2 linked regions of the Homo sapiens genome follow. The protein of the gene in region 1 interacts with the protein of each later gene in a pairwise test. Each region holds a gene or a part of one and is shown on either strand. Other genes may lie near its edges.

The links. Proteins that work in one complex are often made in the same cells at the same time.
Region 2: the proteins of MYNN (region 1) and SERPINH1 interact in binary tests that used the Homo sapiens proteins (3 or more experiments, as listed by UniProt).

The regions. Positions count from the first base shown.
Region 1 is NC_000003.12:169,786,646-169,790,217, reverse strand, and holds the end of MYNN (myoneurin), read right to left. Parts: coding exon 3,540-3,572; 3' UTR 502-3,539; downstream 1-501.
Region 2 is NC_000011.10:75,568,753-75,572,413, reverse strand, and holds part of SERPINH1 (serpin H1 isoform 1 precursor), read right to left. Parts: coding exon 3,585-3,661; intron 3,476-3,584; coding exon 3,243-3,475; intron 634-3,242; coding exon 331-633; 3' UTR 1-330.

The sequences.
Region 1 (3,572 bases):
ATGGAGGCAGGAGTTGCAGAGGACAGAAGAGTAGACTATAATTATTATCTCAAAAAATTAATGCTGTAATAAGTACATATCAATATTGCCCATAAATAACGAGTAAAAATGTAGAATTTAAAGAATTTTACTTGATGGTATTTCTAGTCAAGTTCTAGGTAGTTGGGGGGAGAGGGGAAGGATAGCATTAGGAGGAATACCTAATGTAAATGACGAGTTAATGGGTGCAGCACAGCAACATGGCACATGTATACATATGTAACAAACCTGCATGCTGTGCACATGTACCCTAGAACTTAAAGTATAATAATAATAAGAAAAAAAAAGTTCTAGGTACTCAAAATTTCCAGGTAAAATATTGAAAATTATATTCAAGAGCATCATTTTAAACTGCTTCCCAAAGGTAGAACATCAGGAAATGTTTAAGATAGTAGTTCATGGTTGGGCGCAGTGGCTCATGCCTATAATCCCAGCACTTTGGGAGGCTGAGGTGGGCAGATCACCTGAGGTCAGGAGTTCGAGACCAGCCTGGCCAACAGAATGAAACCCCATCTCTAACAAAAATTAGTCAGGTGTGGTGGCGCGCACCTGTAGTACCAGCTACTCAGGAGGCTGAGGCCGGAGAATTGCTTGAATCCAGGAGGCAGAGGTTGCAGTTAGCTGAGATCACGTCATTGCACTCCAGCCTGGGCAACAGAGTGAGACTCTACATGTTTGGTATACATTAAAATCACCTATGGGGCTTCCCCAGCATATATATGCCCTGGGAACTGTCTGATTCAATAGGTGGGGTGGGCCTGGATATTGTTATTTCTTAAGCATGTTTCTGATATGCATTAAATGTTAGAACTATTTAGAATACTTAAAAAAACTAGTACATGTACATTATTTCAACTACTCACACAATTTCTGTAGGACTGAAACACAGAAATTAGCTACTGTTGGAATGAAACTGATAGAACCATTACCTTTGAAAAAAGGTTTTCTAAAATTTGTCTATCAAAATCATCCTGTGAAATTAAACATAAGACAAATGCCATTTAAAAACAGCAAAAAAATTTTTATATAATCTACGGTTTCTTTTAAAATAGTCTAAAATCTAACATACAGTAGGCATGATCTGATACAAATACAAAAGAAAATTAAATTTATTTAGAAAATAGTTTCTCAGTAAGATCTTCACCTTCTAAAGACTTCCATAAAAATATGTAATACTTAAATAATTACTAATAGACCTTTCCCAAAACACTGCATTGTAACAAATATAAAGTTGGACTTAACTAAAATGGTAGTTATGAGTGTTAGAATGATACCAGATACAACTAAATATATGCATATTATGATAAATAATAGCATAGCATTAAGAGAAGAATGCCAAAGAAGGGATAGTATCTTCAAGTTTTCTCTACACATCATTCTAGAAGAGCAGAAAATGATGACAACTCAAGCCATGTCAATTTAAATAAAATTACTTTAGCTAAGAAGCAGAAAATGTGATCAAGAAAAGCTCAATCAATCTTAGCCACTTCAATCGTATCAAATAATACTAAAAATAATAAATTTGAAGGCTAATCTATGCAAAGGCAGAATGCTAATAATACCAGAGGAAATTTGGCAACTATTGCCCTTATAGAATTATGACGTCACTGTAGCAGTTTTTTGTTCATTAGATGCTTGGATTAACGAAGATATAAATAAATTAAACATAACCTCTCCATTTTAGCAAACTTCCTAAAGAGGCTGAGTCTTTTAATTTTCTATAATTTCTTCACATTCCAATACATTCCTATCACATTTAACCCAGAAGAGATTAGGTAACATTCTAATGCTTTGTAAATTGTATTTAAACCCACTATTTTAACTTGATACACATGCATAGATTTCTTAGATAAAATAATCAAATATTGTTTGCATCATACAAAGGTGGTATTTCAAACTCTATTCAAATAAGTCAGTCCCATGTCCCACCAGTGGCAATTTATTATGAAAATAATGTGTGTGCTGTGAAATGGTGAAGATCTCTACAGACTACAAGCATTAAGTGTTTTTATTATGTCCTCTAATTGGTTCTTATGACTTGGGTCCCAAATAGAGAAAATTAATGAATTAAAGAAATCAATACCAATAAAAAACATATTAACTGTACTACAGGTGTAGTTTAAAAGCAGAACACAAAAAAGCCACAGCATGGCAGAAATAAGAAATGATGTCATCTCACACTGAACAACAGCCTTGTGGGGGGAAAAAAAAAGAAAAAGAATATCACCATGCTGTTTGATTGGCACTATAAAAATTGACTTTGTGGAACTCATAATTTCATATCCAAAGATCAGGCAGTGAAATAAATTAATATGTGGGAAAAGTGGCATGGGGATGAGTGGTGCAAATATCAGGATAATAACGAATTTTCTACATTCATTTGGAAGGAAAAGGACCATTGTGAAACTACAACCACCACCAAAAGTTGTGGTTTAATTTATAAAATTAACAAACCCCAAACTTATAGAAAACTCAGATATAAAATATTTAACTATAGTTGGCTTTCTGGTAACTCAAAATGTTTACTTATAATTGAGGTTAATTTCTTAACTCTTTATGCAATATAATGTACCAAATTTAGAAGCCAAGTGATTTCTAGTATGCATTAAGTTTATATCTAGAAAATTCTTTCTGGAATTCAGTATTTATTTTAAAAAGTGCATAACAGGAGTAAGAGAGGCTTACCAAAATATTTCAAAACTCAAGTACATTTTCCTCATCTCCAATATTTTAGAACGGAATAAAACATAAACTGAATCAAATTTTGAAACTGTCTTTGACAAGATAAAAACACCAAATATCTACTTAAAATTCATTTTGAAAATACAATCTCAGATAACTCAAACCAAAAGTGCTGACCATTGGTTTTCTCCAGAATACTCAGTTCTAAATGAACAAAAATTTATATGCACTTTTCTAGATTTTGAGAAACATTTTTGTTTCATTAGAAAAGTTATTTCTAACAATATATTAATAGAGAAATAGCACAATTCTTATTCAGCGCCTAAATTTTTACGAGCGAAAATATGAAATTTTATTTTTATGCATAGTTTATGTATTGATCCATGGGGCTTACAAATAGCAACACACTCTTGGGCTGATACTATCGTGGATTTTGCTTAAATTATGAGGGCAGGAAAATTTTAAAATCCCACAGGTCACAACTGAATCACATTAACTGGCTGATTTAGTAAATGAAGGGCAATTCTAAAATGCAAAATAAAAATGGAATTAAGGCAGCTTTAAAAGAAAATAAAACTCATCCACCCAAAATAGTGCTACATAATTCATTACTTAAAAAGCTCTCTGTGGAGTATAGACATAAAGCCAAAAATAAAAACAAACATTGCAGTTGTGATGCAGCATCAGGTGCTTTTACTTCAGTGAATGAAAAATAATGGTCACAACTCAAATGAATGGGAATTTAATATGAATATATGCACCTTACCAGAGATGTTTGCTACCAATGATATCTTAGCAATTCCATATTCCTTACAAAGTCAGTATAATTGTTGTAAAAAAATCAACTGTGG
Region 2 (3,661 bases), on another chromosome or scaffold:
AGGTGAGAAGGTACCTGGCTATAAATATGAATACTGATTGAGGCAGGCTTGATCTGGGACTTTCAGGGCAGGCAGAATGACTATGGCCCAGGTCCCACAGGATGTGGAGTTTCCGGGCTCAGCATCATGGTATCTGGGGCCCATGTCCAAGTGGAGTGAATTCTAGCTGGGAAGGTCCGCTCAGGCACACGGGAACCCCGGTCTGTTTTTCCACCCCCACCCCATGGAGTATCCAAGGCTGGTACCTCACCTCCCCCCCAACCCCAATAGCACCCATGTGTCTCAGGAGCCTTTGGATGCCTCCTGCCATCCTGTGTGCACCCTGAGGCCCTATAACTCGTCTCGCATCTTGTCACCCTTAGGCCGGACCAGGCGCCCAATGAATAGCAGGGAGCCGCTTTGGGTGTCCCGCACTAGGAAGATGAAGGGGTGGTCGGCGTAGAACAGCTTGGGGCTGCGCAGCTCCTCGCGCCCGTAGATGTCCTGGTCAAAGGGGTTGCCATCTGTGTCCAACTCAAAGGCGGTGGCGTGGAACACGCTGGCCAGGTACAGGTCCTTCTTGCCTGACATGCGTGACAAGTCGGCCTTGTTCTTGTCAATGGCCTCAGTCAGGCCCAGCCCAGCCAGGTGTTTCTGTGGGAACAAGGAGGTGTGCCAGGTGAGGCCATGGCTGCCAGGCTCCTCCACCCTCAAACCCTCCACCCCATACTACCCTGACCGCTCCTCAGAGAGGAGAGAACCACCCCCTGGTCACCTTCTGTATGCCAGGCATGGCACTGGCACTTCAAATCACAGCTTTCTCAATTCTCACTGCAACCCTACAAGGGCTTCTAATTGCCACTTCACAGATGAGGAAGCTGAGACTCAGAAAAACAAGTGAGAACGTATCCCGGCACTGCCCAGCTGCAGTTCAGGGACAGACAGCATGGGCACCACCCAGGAGCTTATCTCAAATGCTCATGTCCTGACCCCAGCCCAGACCCCCTGAATCAGAATCTCTGGGAGTGGGCATGGATTCCTTTTCACAAACTCCCCAAGTGCTTTCTTAGCATACTCAAGTTTGAGAAAGACTGATCTAAGGACAACTATGTCCACATCACTCTGGGGCTGAAAACCTGTCCAGAGTGATAGGATGCCTGGAATTTGCTTCAGAATAATCAGATGCAGGGGGGAATTAGTGGGTATAAATGGATCACTATTGGCCATGAGCTGATAATGCTTGAAGCTGGGCGACAGACACTTGAGGTTTCATTACACTAATCTACTTTTATTTTTCCAATGTTCGATAGTAAAAAGTTAAAACACATATACACACATACACACACACACACACACAAACATCTTTCCATGGCCCTGCACAGCTCTTGGAAGCCAACCATAAGCTCTTTAACATATGACCTGTGCCTACGTGGCAGCCTCCAGCCACATCCCTTGGCACGCCCCACCCCACTCTCCAGACAGCCTCACAGAACAGCTTATATCCTGGATGGCCATCCTGTCTCCCATTAGGGCTCTTTAGAAACCACTTCTTTCAGGAAGCCTTCCCGAGCCCACAGGATGAGTGGTGCCTCCCTGGACCTTCCTGTTATCAGTCTGGTGCTGCCTGTCTCTCCCACCTGGCTTGGAGCTCCCTGAGGGCGGGGCCCATGTCCAGCGCTCTCCCTGGCTCTCAATGCAGGAGAGAGGACAGTAAATGGCTGTGGGCTGAGTGAATGGCAGCATCCGGGTCCAGGATTCTTCAGGATAACATCCACCTCCCTGGCAAGGCCACACAGGAACTAGGCCTGAGGTCCTGAGAGTCAGGGGGTCATGAGACAGGCATTCGAGGTAGGCCCAGCTCTTCCCACCCGGATGACCTTGCACACGTCATCCGCCTCAAATTTCCTAACTCAATCTACCCCATATCTGGGGGGTGGGGTCTCCACTGAGGGTTCCAGGAAGACACCAGAGGAACAAGGGGAGAAGGGGGTGGGACAACAGCCACTGGAGAAGGGGCTGGGGAAGGATCAGGGCCAGGACCAGGAGAGAGACAGTGACCCCTCTCCAGGAACTCCCAGGGTCTACAGCACAGACCAGTACGAGCTCCACTTGTCCCTGGTTTGGAGCCTAAGCCCCACTTCATCTCCAGCTTTATCTCTCCAAGCTCTCTGGGCAGCAAGTCTGGATCGATTCTGCAGGTGAGAACCATTTGTGGCATCCAAGGAAAGAATGACACGAAAGTTTCCTTTTTTGGGTAAGTCAAAAATATCTCTCGATTGACAAAAAGGCGGCTATTATGTTTTTACCTTGAGGTCTAATTGCAACTCCACCACTTATGAGCCTGGGGAACCTTAGGGAGTCATTGCTTCTCTCTGAGCCTCTGCCCACTACCCAGGGTGGTTGCAAGGGAGAATCTTGAGAATGTGTGTTAAGTTTCTGGCCATCCTAGATGACCCATAGCTACCAGTCTGATTATTGGATGGTAGATAATCCTCTAGCTTAAACAATCTATAACTGGGGGCACTTCAGACCTCAGAGGCAGTGCAGTGACCGAGGGTTAGCTCTGGTGCAAGATGTCTGAATTACTAGCTGTGTGACTTTGCACAGGTTACTTAACCTTTCTGAGCCTCAGTTTCCTCATCTCTAAGATGAAACTTATAGTCCTACCTAATAAAGTCGTTTTGAGGATTAAAAGAGTTTAATACGTATAAAGGCTGGGCACGGTGGCTCACACCTGTAATCCCAGCACTTTGGGAGGCTGAGGCAGGAGGATCACTTGATGTCAGGAGTTTGAGACCAGCCTGGCCAACATGGTGAAATCCCGTCTCTATTAAAAATACAAAAATTAGCTGGGGGTGGTGGCACATGCCTGTAATCCCAGCTACTCGGGAGGCTGAGGCAGGAGAATCGCTTGAACCCAGGAAGTGGAGGTTGCAGTGAGTCGAGATGGCACCATTGCACTCCAGCCTGGGCAACAGAGTGAGACTCCATCTCAAAAAAAAAATAATAATAATACATATAAAGTGCTTAGAAGAACGCCTAGCATACAGGAATGTTCCGTTATATTTAGCTGCTGGTATTATCATCATCTTCCCAAGGGCATGGCCCACACCTCCTGCCCCAGCTTCCCCCATCACAGAGCCCAGCACTGCCTGGACATCCAGGGGGTCTTGGGACAGACCTGCTGAATTGGTGAGTGGGTCCCCCAAGCACCTCCCCCTGGCTCCAAGGCCTGCAGGCCCCTAGGCTGGGCCACCCCTTACCTGCAGGTCATGGGTCACCTCCACCACACCCTTGGGCAAGGAGATGGCAACAGCCTTCTTCTGCATCTTCCCCATCCAGATCTTCAGCTGCTCTTTGGTTAGCAGCTTTTCAAGGCGCTCGAGAGGCTCCACGTGATGGGGCATGAGGATGATGAGGCTGGAGAGCTTGTGGGCCAGGGGCATCTCCACGATTTGCAGCTTTTCCTTCTCGTCGTCGTAGTAGTTGTAGAGGCCTGGGAGAGGAGCGGAAAGGACACTGGGCACCCTGTGTGCAGGGGTGGGTCAGACCAACTACCCTTGGACCCCCACCCACCTTGACACCCTGCTCCTCACAGCACCTACCTGTCCGGTGCATCATCATGACACCCACGGTATAGGACCGAGTCACCATGAAGCCACGGTTGTCCACCATCTTGTGG